Regions from separate parts of the Homo sapiens genome. Here region 2 is linked to region 1. A link means that fine-mapping ties the variant in region 1 to the expression of a gene that starts in the linked region. Tissue or cell type: whole blood. Region 1 holds a variant in brackets; the other region holds the start of a gene. All regions are shown on one strand. Distances are from middle to middle.

Region 1 (6,121 bases):
GTCCCAGCTATTTGGGAGGCTAAGGCATGAGAATAACTTGAACCCGGGAGGCAGAGGTTACTGTGAGCTGAGATCGTGCTACTGCACTCCAGCCTGGGCGACAGAGTGAGACTCTGTCTCAAAAACAAAACAAAACAAAAAAAAACCCAAAACATTTTCATCACCCCCAAAAGAAATCCCATACCCATTAGTATTCACTCCCCATTTTCTCCCAACCCTTGGGCCTCAATTTTGAAGATAACTTGCTACAAACATGTTTTGAGGGGGTGGAGCACCCAGCAATATTGTTTAGGCAGATGGGCTACTGAGCTTAGTGGGAATTTGGATACAAAGAGACTCTACCACAGAGAATAGGGTGGGCCCCGTGATTAGTCCCCTGGCCCTGGGCCTGGCACCTATGAGGTGTTCAAGGCTGACTTTCCATAAATATTTGAATAAACATGTGAACCAACACCCCAAGATAAGAGCCCAGACTTACATTATATGTAAGCCAAGAGCAAGTGTATATTTATGGGGCAGGGACCATGCTGTGGCTACTTGAGGTCTGGAGCCAGGAACTCTCTGGAAACAGCAGAGCTTATAGGAAGAGTCGGCCTCCACATCATCAGAGCTGGAAGGCTCCCCCTCCACAATACTCCTTCTCCGCAGCTGGCCACAGGAGCTCACATGGTCACCATTGGAAGTTAGAATTGACTTACTAGATGGAGCTTGGGTTGACATTGAGTCCTTGAGGGGCTTGGGACACAAGCCTGGGAAGCCTCTGTTGAAGCGGCCCCACAGGGGCTCTGAGGCTTCGAAGTGGAGAGCTGTGAGCCAGCCTTGAGCTAGGGATCCTAGCAGATGGTTGCTAGCATGGACAGAGGAAAAAGCAGGGACTTCAAGATCAAGGTCACACCGGCCCCAGTTTGAGTTCTGCCTCCATTCTTGGGCAGTGGTGGCCTTGATCATGTTACCTAATCTCTGAGCCTCACTTCTACTGTTTTTCAAATGAAACTATTAAAACAGAATTATTACCAAAGCAGATTTCACTGAAAACAAAGTTCATTGTGTGTAGTAGTTGGAAATAAAGCTAGGTTCAAACCCCGGCTCTGCCACTTACTGGCTCCTTTGCAGGGACGGTGTAGCACCCCAGAACTACACATCCCTGCCACCTTCCCTGCACACCACCCTGTCATCTTGTCATTTTTACTGTTTGGCCCTCCTTTTCCCGAAGCAGGGGGAGCAACTTGAAGTGGTATCAGAGAGCGCAAAAGAAAATCTTGCCCACCTTTACACAAGCACCCACGCCCCACTGCCCCTCCCCCAGCAGGCCATGCCTGAGACCACAGTGGCCACACCCACCACCCTCGGCCCACCAGCAGCTCAGGTCACTGCCAACCCCACAAGTGCTCACCCTGAGCTGGCACCAACCTCAAGCGCTTCCACCCCCTCCACCCAAACACGTGCCGCCAGCTTTGAGCCAGGCTTGTAACCAAACCCTGGCCCTGGGTTTGTGCTGCAGATGTAGGGAGGGGCTGGCAGAAGCCCAGGTGCACATCCAGATGTTGTTTCTAAGGTTTCCTTGGCGTTCTCCCTACCAGCTGTGAAGCCGTATTCACTCCAGCTTGCAGGAGTGGACAAGCAGGTACTCCCCTCAGGGGCGGCGGGGCCCTATCTGGAGGGAACTGGTTCCTCTTTGTCCTAGGGGGGACATAGAGTGAGAGGGGACAGGGAAAAGTGGGACCCTGCTCTCTCTCTCTCTCTTTTTTTTTTTTTGAGATGGAGTCTCCTCTGTCACCCAGGCTGGAGTGCAGTGGCGTGATCTTGGCTCACTGCAACCTCTGCCTCCGGGTTTCAAGCGATTCTCCTGCCTTAGCCTCCCGAGTAGCTGGGATTATAGGCGCCCGCCACCATGCATGGCTAATTTTTGTTTTGTTTTGTTTTGTTTTTGTTTTTTTGAGATGGAGTCTCACTCTGTCACCCAGGCTGGAGTGCAGTGGCGTGATCTCGGCTCACTGCAACCTCTGCCTCCTGGGTTCAAGTGATTCTTCTGCCTCAGCCTCCCGAGTAGCTGGGACTACAGGCTTGCACCACCACGCCTGGCTAATATTTGTATTTTCAGTAGAGATGGAGTTTCACCATATTGACCAGGCTGGTCTCGAACTCCTGACCTCATGATCCGCCCACCTGACCTCATGATCCGCCCACCTTGGCCTCCAAAGTCTGAGATTACAGGCGTGAGCCACCACACCCGGCCAATTTTTGTATTTTTAGTAGAGACGGGGTGCCTCCATGTTGGCCAGGCTGGTCTTGAACTCCTGACCTCAAGTGATTCACCCACCTCGTCCTCCCAAAGTGTTGGGATTACAGGTGTGAGCCAC[C/T]ACGCCCGGCCCCTGCTCTCATGACAGGAGGCCTGGCTGGGCAGGGTTCTTGGCCAAAGATACAAGAATATGGCCCCGAGCTGAGAGAGGTATCAAGATCACCTTCTCAGCCATTTTTTTTGCAGGCCCATCCAGAACCATCATTTGTAGGAATCCCCTTAGCTTCTTGCACAGCTGCTTGAACCTCAGGGAACAATATCACTACGGGGAAGCCAAGGTGATTGTGTCCATCCACCACGAGGCCCCCGAACCAGGCAGCAAGGCTTCTAGAGCCAGCATCACATAGTTCTGGCCTGTCCCCAGGAGGACTGGCAACTGGGCAGAGAGGTCCAAAGCCTCAGGCTGCTTACAGCTGTTCTGACCCATGGCCTTGGGAGGGTCTCACTGAGTGGGTCACCTGCCTGCACAATAACCTCACAGGCACACAGCCCTACGGCTAGGAACCCCACCTTGCAACAGCACCTGGGAGGTACTTAAGAGTGGAAGTCACCACACCAAGTCATCAGCCACCATGGAATGTGAGAGTTTCCTGCTACATCACCCAGAAAATGCCTCTACCCTTGACCCATATGTGATATAATACAGTTGACCCTTGAACAACATGGGTTTAAACCACACGGATCCACTTTATATGTGGATTTTTTTTTTTTTTTTCTGAGACAGAGTTTTGCTCTGTCACCCAGGCTGGAGTGCAATGGCGCGATCTTGGCTCACTGCAACCTCCGCCTCCTGGGTTCAAGCAATTCTCCTGCCTCAGCCTCCCAAGTAGCTGGGATTATAGGCTCACCACTGCACTCCAACCTGGGGGACAGAGTGCCTGCCACCACGCCATCATGTTGGCCAGGCTGGTCTCGAACTCCTGACCTCAGGTGATCTGCCTGCCTTGGCCCAAAATGCTGGAATTATAGGCATGAGCCATCACACCCGGCCTATATGTGGATTTTTTTTTTTTTTAACAGTATTCTCAAGATTCGAAACCTGAGTACAGGGAGGGCCACCTTTTTGGATTTGTGGGCTCCACAGGCCAACTGCGGGACTTGAGTGTGCATGGATTTTGGTATTCCCAGGTGGTCCTGGAACCAATCCCCAAGTATGCCAGGGGACAACTGTACTTTGCCCTCCGTTGTCGCCTGTGTCCATTGGTGCTAGGGACAAGGCCCCTGCAAAATTACGAAGTGACATTGATTTCAATGTCATCTGCCCCAGTGAACTAACCTCTCATCCTCTTGCTTCATTAAACCTGTCCCTCCATTCGAAGCCACCCTGGGCTAGTCCTTCCTGGACATTGACCTCAGCATTTATATTCCAGTTTTTTATCCAGTCCTCTAAGGCCAGGCTCACTCCACCCCTCAAGGTGACAGCTAGGTAAAGTGATAAAGTCATTTCTACTCATCTGGTAGTAGGAGAGGGTTTGTGGAGAGGGTTTGTGGTAGCAAGAGAGCCCCAATCTCCCTCCCAGGTACTGCATCCGCTTGTACCTGCTCCTAGCCCAAAGCAGTCTGGTAGACCTGCCACTGGGGCGTCCCCTTGTGTAGACAGCTGTCTCCTCAGCCTTCCTGTGAGGGATCCTCCCCACTCACCACGCAGGGCCCTTCCCTCTCTGCACTCCCTGACCTGTGTGAGGCAGGGGCGGGGCTGGGAGGGCCAGCAGGCCCCGAAGGGGAAACTGCTGAAACCCCTGGGACAGGAAGTGGCAGAGAAGGGCTGTTTCCGCTGGCAGAGCAGGGGTGCGGTGAGAGCTGGCCCTATCTCCTACTCCACTGCCTGTCTGCTGTGGGCCCTGGGAGGCTGGGGAGAGGTGAGAGTCCTTTCCCTGTCTCCCTCCCAAAAAAGTGGAGGCTTTTAGCCCACCGGACTGGAGGGAGGGGAGGGCTCTTTCAGAGGAGGCCATCTTCATTTTGCAAGGAGAGGAATTCCGAGAGGAGGGCAGAAAGGTCAGCAGACGGGAAGGGTGGGGCAGGGCAGGTGAGTGTGGAGTGAGGGAGGCCCATGGGGGCAGCGGAAAACCACAGCTGGGCAGAGGACCCTTCTGTAAGCTTTTGTTCTGAGGGTAAATGATCAGGACCATGCCTGCTAAGAACTGTGGGAGATGGTAATGCAGTTGATCACTGCCTGTCTAAGTCATAGGGCTAGACAGGCCCTTAGGTCACCCAGTCCAACCCCCTCATTGTGCAGATGAGGTAACCGAGGCACACAAAGCAGAAGTGACCTGCTCGAGGTCACATCATGGGCAGAACTCACGTCTCCTAACCCCAGCCCAGGACCTTCTTTCTGATGAGAATCTGCTGAGTTGTATTTGGCATCCCACACCTCCCTGCAGGCACCTCCATCCCCAAGTGCTCTGTGACATTCTTCTCAGAAATCAACATGATGGGGTGGGTGTGGTGGCTCACGCCTGTAATCCCAGCACTTTGGGAGGTGGAGGTGTGAGGATGGCTTGAGGCCAGGACTTGGAGACCAGCCTGGGCAATATAGCAAGACCCCATCTCTGAAAAATAAATAAATACAAATTTGAAAAAATATATATTTTTTTGAGATGGAGTTTCACTCTTGTTGCCCAGGCTGGAGTGCAGTGGCACGATGTCGGCTCACTGCACCTCTGCCTCCCGGGTTCAAGCGATTCTCCTGCCTCAGCCTCCTGAGTAGCTGGGATTACAGGCGCCCACAACCATGCCCAACTAATTTTTTGTATTTTTAGTAGAGACGGGGTTTCATCATGTTGGCCAGGCTGGTCTCAAACTCCTGACCTTAGGTAATCCACCCGCCTCGGCCTCCCAAAGTACAGGGATTATAGGAGTGAGCCACTGTGTCTGGCCTAAAATAAATTTTAAAAAAGAAATGAACTTGGTGAATTTATTCACACTGAAGCCTTTAGTCCAGCATTCAGCAAACCTTTCCTACAAAGAATTGGTTGAGCCAGTTTATTTGAGACCAACCTGGACAACATGGCAAAACCCTGTCTCAACAAAAAATACAAAAAGTTAGCCGGGCACGGTGGCGTGCACGTGTAGTTCCAGCTACTTGGGAGGCTGAGGCGGGAGGATTACTTGAGCCTAGGAGACAGAGGTTACAGTGAGCCATGATTGTGCCACTGCACTCCAACCTGGGTGACAGATCAAAACCCAGTCTCAAAAAATACATATATTAAAAAATCACTATATGTCAGGAAATATTTTTCTTTTGATTTTTCCCAATCATTAAAAAATGTAAAACCCATTCTTAGCTCATGGGCCGTCTAAAAATGGACCGCAGGGCTGGGTTTGGCACATGAGCCATAGTTTATGAACCCCTGCTTTGGTCTAAGAAGTAAAGCTAAGGTGTCATGAGGAGGAGGAGAGAGTGTGCCAGGTGGGGAGGAAGCAGGGAAGGCTTTGAAAAGAAGGTGACATTTGCTTCAGATCTTGAAGGACTTGTGGGCATTGGGCTTGCAGAAGTTGAAGAAGGGCCTGTCAGGCCTGGGGGACAGTGTGAACACAGGCACGGAGGTGGAGGTGGGGAAGGCACTGTGGAGGTGGGGAAGGCACTGTGAAGGTTCAATGTGCCCTGCATGTGTGTGGCTTCTTCTTCTTCTTCTTCTTTTTTTTTTTTGAGACAGAGTCTTGCTCTGTCGCCCAGGCTGGAGTGCAGTGGCGTGATCTTGGCTCACTGCAACCTCCATCTCCCGGGTTCAAGCAATTCTCCTGCTTCAGCCTCCTGAGTAGCTGGGACTACAGGAGGGCGCCACCACACCTGGCTAATTTTTGTATTTTTTATTATAGACA
Region 2 (6,121 bases), 79 kb before region 1:
CCTGGCATTCTATCTCCCCCTGTCAAACTCCCCCAATCTAGGGGACTGAATATTGTCCTGTAGAGTGAAATGCAGTGGTAAAGGGCATGGTCTCTGAATCTGGGTTGAAATCGTGGCCCTGTAACAGGAAAGGTAGGATAGTGAGGTGGCGAAGTGCTTGGGCTCAAGAGTCAAAGGCTGAAGCTCAGATCCATGTGCCACTGGGTTATTTCATCTCTCTTAGCCTCAGTCTCCTTATCTATAAAATGGGAATGATAACAATACTGCTGATTTCATAAAGCTGCTGTGAGGAGTAAATAAGATAATGCATGTAAAGTGCCTAGCCTGGGCTCTTTGCTTATTCAATACATAGTTGTTATTATTATTATTATTATTGCCTACTCATTGGAGGCTTTTCTTGATGTTCATACAATTGAGTTCATCAGGACTCAATTGTAAATGCTTTGATGGGGTGAGGGTGGGGAACATAATGATTGGAGACAGCAAATGGGGCTTCAATACCCTAGGGATGGCCTTGATAATTAATTACAGTGTGGCTCTAACTACACCAAATCAGTTGTCCCTAGCAGGGGTTCATGTATGTGCTACCCCGGGACACAGGCAGGCAGCCCAGAAGAGGCCACACCCTTGCTCTTAGACTGAGAAGAGCTGGCTGAGACCTCTCTACCACTCTCCTCCAAGGGCTGGTATGTTACAGCCCAAAAGCCTTCTATTGCTGGCCATGGTCTAGGCCAGACCTCGGACTGTCACACTGGACTTTTCTCTCTCTCGCAAAGGACGAAGCCCTTGGCAGTCATCTCCAAGCATGGCTTTGGCATGTATTCCTTGAACAACTTCAGGCTAGCCAGAGTGCGAGGCCAAATCTTCTCTTATCTAGATCACGTGCTAGCCGCCAGGCTCTGCCATCTTCCCACAGACATGCTGGTCTCTCGCCTGCCAGCATGGTCCTGAGATTGCAGCAGCTTTACAAGAAGCAGGGTCACCATCTCCCCACTCCCACACGCCACTCTGAGCTCCTTTGGAATCTGCCCTCAGAGGACTCCTCCATGAGCAGTGTCACAAGGCTTTGTCCCCTTGAAAATATCATCTTCCCCAAAAAAGCCTGTATTAAGCACTTATCTGCACGTGGTGTTGTGCTGAGCTCTGTTTCTAGTGAGTCACACTGTCACAGGCTCTGCCCTCTGGGAAAAAGTCTGGAATCTTTGCCAGAGACTGTAAAGTCCAGTTTGGCTAAGTACTGGGGTGTTAGAAGAGAAGGAATAGTTTAAAAATTCCTTCAAGGCCACTGGGTGGTGACTCTTCCACTCGTGTTCATCTGTCATCCCTCACTTTCTAGCTTCTTCCTCCCTCCTTCTTTAGATTCCCAAACACTTCATTTTTTCCATCTAAATTTCAGATGGACTTATTTCCCACCTTTTAAATCCAGGGAACTCTTTGGCTCACTGTAGCACTTGATTTTAAGCAAATGGGAGCATTAGGTTTTTGAGGTTTAAGAGCCCATCTGTAAAGATATTTCTACTTTGGATTACAAAGTCATGTTTTAGAAATTCTAGAATCTTATAGCCTTACATTAAAGAAGCTAGACACACTAGAGGAAGTCTTAACCAAGCAAATGTCAACAGCCCCAGGAAAGGACAGAGACAGATACCGCCTTTGACTTTAAAAGGAAATGTAGCACTTCCCTTCCAAAATGCAAGGGGCAAAAAAGATCACGATTTCAAAATAATGTTCTATCTTCCTACCCTGGGGCTCTCCCTTATCAGTACTGAGCTGTCCATCTTCCTGACATCTAGTGAGTTGGCCTAGTTTCTGAAGCCATTTTTAGAACACGTTCATTTTAATAATCAAGGAGTCAGGAGTCTCGCACAGTTTCAAGTGTTTCATCAGTTTCATCAGTTACTCAGCCCTTCTCTCCACGTCACTCAGAGGAGGGGCCTTGTGGTCACTTTGGCAGTTTGACCAGCAAGAAGGAGGCTTACTGTCACCCCTGACTCTGTCTAAGGTCCAACCATACGCTCAAGGAAAGGCCAGCTGTGAGCCTAGAGGAGTTGTCTTCAGTGATCCCAGTGCCTTTATAGAGGCCCCCCTCTGCTCCCCATGACACAAGAAGTTGCCCTTGTTATGTCCTCCCTCCCGCCATCCCCTGCACATTGACATATTCCTGTCATATCAGGTTTCTACCTTTTCTGAATTAAAGGTGAGCACAAATGGTCAGACAAGAATATTTGCACTTAGCCTATTACATAAACTCATGGAGGGGGAGGATTGAACATTCCCCTGGCCCTCGGTTAAGTCACTGCATTTTTACAAAGACCTGAAGACAATACCAACAGAATGAATAAGGAGCAGTTCATGTATTAGATGCCCCAGACAAGTAAAGAAGATATCATTCCAGGGGGGCTGTTACAAAAAAACAAGTTTTGTCTATTACGAAGGGCTGGACCCTGCCTCAATTTCTTTAAAAGGGCTCATGGCTTTCTGCCAGAACCACCCCACTCCACCGCCATCTCAACTCAGCCCTAATTTTTTAACTATAAACTGCAATTTAAAATAAAGCAGCTTTTTCATTCTCCATGGATTTCCATCATTTCCTTCCCTCTAACGCCTTGAGGCTTAGCCAAAGTGGGGTTTTGCAGCCTATCGGCACCCAAGCAGTAGAAGAGACATCAGGATGTGTAAAGTGCTTTGGGATCCATCCCAGAGACTAGGACCCACAGATGCCTCCTGCCTCCCTCTGCCCACAGGTGCCGCTGCTCGGGGTAGGGGTCATGGATGGGAATCCAACATGCTTTTCCTGGCAGGACCTGTCAGGCAGGGGCTAAGGGTAAGAATGCAACCCCATTCTCAACCGCCCTAAAAAACTGAGTGAAGTGGGGACGGGGCCCCGCTGAGAGAGGTGAAAAGGGGTGAGGAGGAGCCGAGGGTCCTCGGCTCAGCAAGAGGCGAAACCGCCACGCGCTGGACGCTGGACGACGACAACCGCTAGAGCTATGCCTCGGGCGAGGTCCCCTCCCGGGTCCCACCCTTCCTGGACCTGACCCCCTGGATCACCTTGATCTTCTCGCCCTCGATTTCCACGGTCTTCTCCCTGAAGTCCACGCCGATGGTGGCTTCAGTCTTGTCTGGGAAGGTACCCCCGCAGAAGCGGAAGGTCAGGCAGGTCTTGCCCACGTTGGAGTCCCCAATCACGATTATTTTGAAGATGCGAATCTGCACGTACTGGTCCAGCGACGAGTCGAGCTCCAGGGACGCCAGGCCAGCGGCCGAGGCGGGCTGCAGGCTCCCATGGCCCAGGATGGGCTGCGCCATCTCCCCCGGACCGAACCGGGGCCCCAACCCCCCTTGAGGGCTCCACACAAAGAGAACGTCCACGTTCGTGCGCTCGAGGCGAGCGAGCTCTGTGCGTGTGTGTGTGCGCGCGTGTGTGTGTGTCCGCCCGTGTGTGCGTGCGCCGGCACCGTGTGCGCGCGCGCGCGTGAAGGGGGTGCCTCTCACTCCGGGCCCCCCTCCTCCTCCTCCAGCGCACCCTCCTTGCAGCTCGGAGGCACCAACACAAAAGCCAGGGAGAGGAGGAGAGAGGGAGGAGAGTGGACGAGCCGCGAGCCTTCTGCCTGTGTGCGCCCTCGGACCGGATGCTCTGGCGAAGGACCCTACCGCGCTGCTCCAGCCGCCGCCGCGCCTCGGCCCACACCCTCCCCTGCCTGCATTCCCGGGACGGACCCGAGGGAAGAAGCCTCAGGAGGAAAGAGACGGGGTGGGGACAGCGGCACACGCCACCCCGGGATAGACTTCTTTCTCCTTGCCCCCGTTTATGTTATAGGTTTCGGGCTCCCCACCCCCACTGGCTCGAGCGCACGGGGTCAGCGGGCAGGGAGCACAGCTGGGGAGGACAAAGAGCTGCACCTTAAGACATCACTGGATCACTTCGGCCTCCCTGGAGCAACGCAACTCTGCGGGGATGGGGTGGGGGCGGAGGCACCTCTTTCACCTCGGGAGCAGCGGGCAGCTGAGCCGCGCCTTCCCGGTCCCCGCTACCCCGTCCCCTCTACCCCCACCCTCTACCCGACCCGCGCCTTGGGATAAAGGGATGCTCTGTCTTAATGAGTGAGCAGGTGCACTCGCGGGCCCCAGGCAGCCTGGGAGGCCGCTGCCAAGACACGCAGTGGGTTGTCCGGGGCCTGTACAGCTGAGAGGAGGGAGCCAGCGGGCACGCGTGTGCGTGTGTAGGGGGTGTAACTGTTTCTGTTACAGACTTGCCAGATGTAGGGGGGCGCGTACCAGGCGCCAACATCCCCTTATCACACCACGCGCACCCATCCTCTGAATGTTCAGGAGAGCGGCTCCTATTGGCTGCCGCAGTCGGTTGTGTTTGGCTGGCCAATGGGGAAGGCCCGCCGCGGGAGAGGGCCACACAGAGGCTAGGAGAAGGGGGGGAAGCTAGTGGTGGCAGTTCCAGCAAAAGGGGACTTTGTTTACGGGGCTAGCCATTACTGGCCCAGGTGGAGGATCTTGGGACAATGGCATAAGCTCCACAGTGCCTTCCATTCCCAAGCCCTCCATATAACCATAAGTCCCTCCAGAACGCTGGAGTTTCAGAGGGAGTTGGGAATCCCTAGGAGGGTTCACCTCCCCCTGCAGCTGAATGTAGAACAAAGTGGTTGGGTCTAATTTGCCAGAAGCCTAGATTATGCTTGGAAGATGATAAATGAACACAACCTCCTTACAGTATTAGGGGGCTGCTGCCCAAAGCTTACTAATCATCACACACATCTTGGTCAAGACCAGTATTCCTTCTCCCTAAAGTCATTCGCGGGTTCAGAATTTGTTTGAAATCGACTTTACTGGGGGTACAATTTACATACGATAAAGTGCACCCATTTGTTTCTTTTAAGACTTTACCTCTCCCCCTACATATTTCATAAGCTAAGGTAACACTGACACATGTCACTAGCACTGACTCGTGAGTTATTGCTAATGCCATCAAGGTCAGGGATTCAAACAGCACAGTTGAGCTGCCATCTTATTTGGGAGGTTGAGCTGCAGGAAGAGACAAACATGACCAAATCCATTTCTGCTGAGAGAAAAACAATTCAGTGCATCAGTGATATACCTGAAAGCAAATTGGAATGTGACTACTCAAGGACGTCCAAGTTACTCAGAATGGCATCTTCCAGTTAATAAGTTTATTAGCTGAGCTAGCAGATATATTTACAGCTAACCCTTTTATCATATATGTGGGTCGCCCATTTCTAAAACCCTACATTATACTACTCAGCATTAAAACTACCCAGATAAGGATTTCCTCTTAGTTGGCTAATCCAAAATCATCCTTATGAATACCAATTTTCATTGTATTATGTATCAATCATCATTGTACAGTATTTTTGGTTTTGATTAGTCTGATGCCTAGTTTGCTGGATCGTTCCCCTCTGTATTGGAAGTTAATGCCCCTGATGATCTTTATCTACAGAATAGCTTTAAGGTGGAGAGGGGTAACTATTAATTAGGTACATCCTGTACACAAAGTAGAAAGGGGCTTTGCCCTTTGCCAATTCACAGCTAGAATTAATGCTAACTTCCTGAGAGATATTAAAAAAACATATGTACATAATAAGATTATTTCAATGTAAGCTTCTAGCAAAAACTTGTCACTGAGTCTACTTTTGTAAGGAAGAAACTTTGATTTCTGAAAATATGATATCTCAAAATGGGCTTCTTGCCCTAATAAAAGGTGTCTGTTACTTCTGTGGGGTGAGACTTTGGGGGATTTCCACTTATATTTTTTGGAATTAATTCAATGAGTATATATTGCTTTTGAAAAAAGATAAAAATATAATTTTTAATTAAAAGGACAGGAAAACTACCTTATTGTACCTATTGTAAAAAAATTAAATGTACTGTACAATGCCCTTTGTGTTAATTGTGCATTATTAAATTACTTTCAAATACATGCAGTTGTTTTCATAGGTACCTGATTATCATGATTTTGACAGTGTTTTCCAGTCTCTTTTGCCATCAGATATAATTAACTTTGTATTTAATCAATCCATGATTATTGGTTTTTACAAATATCAATAAAAATCAATGCAAGGCTGTTAAAATGTTAAGTAAATATAAATAA

Which allele goes with the higher level. Alleles are on the strand shown, and positions count from the first base shown. SD is a standard deviation of normalised expression in the study named.
With allele T in place of C in region 1, the expression in whole blood of the gene that starts at base 3,410 in region 2 is lower (small effect, 0.27 SD a copy in GTEx).

Evidence for each region. PIP is the estimated chance that this variant, and not a neighbour inherited with it, causes the effect.
Region 2: RAB33A starts here. The variant in region 1 is fine-mapped to the expression of RAB33A in whole blood (GTEx, PIP 0.95).

What each region holds. Positions count from the first base shown.
Region 1 is chrX:130,090,200-130,096,320 of GRCh38, reverse strand. The region is part of intron 1 of ELF4 (E74 like ETS transcription factor 4); the gene reads left to right. Among named protein-coding and RNA genes, the nearest start is that of ELF4, 17 kb to the left of the region's middle. RefSeq lists a silencer at 4,587-4,636. The variant C/T (reference allele first, on the strand shown) is at 2,361.
Region 2 is chrX:130,169,251-130,175,371 of GRCh38, reverse strand. It overlaps RAB33A (RAB33A, member RAS oncogene family), which reads right to left and starts at 3,410. Exons shown (of 2, transcript NM_004794.3): 1 at 3,052-3,410. The coding sequence starts at 3,309. RefSeq lists enhancers at 2,873-3,827, 4,637-4,686 and silencers at 3,947-4,026, 4,197-4,256.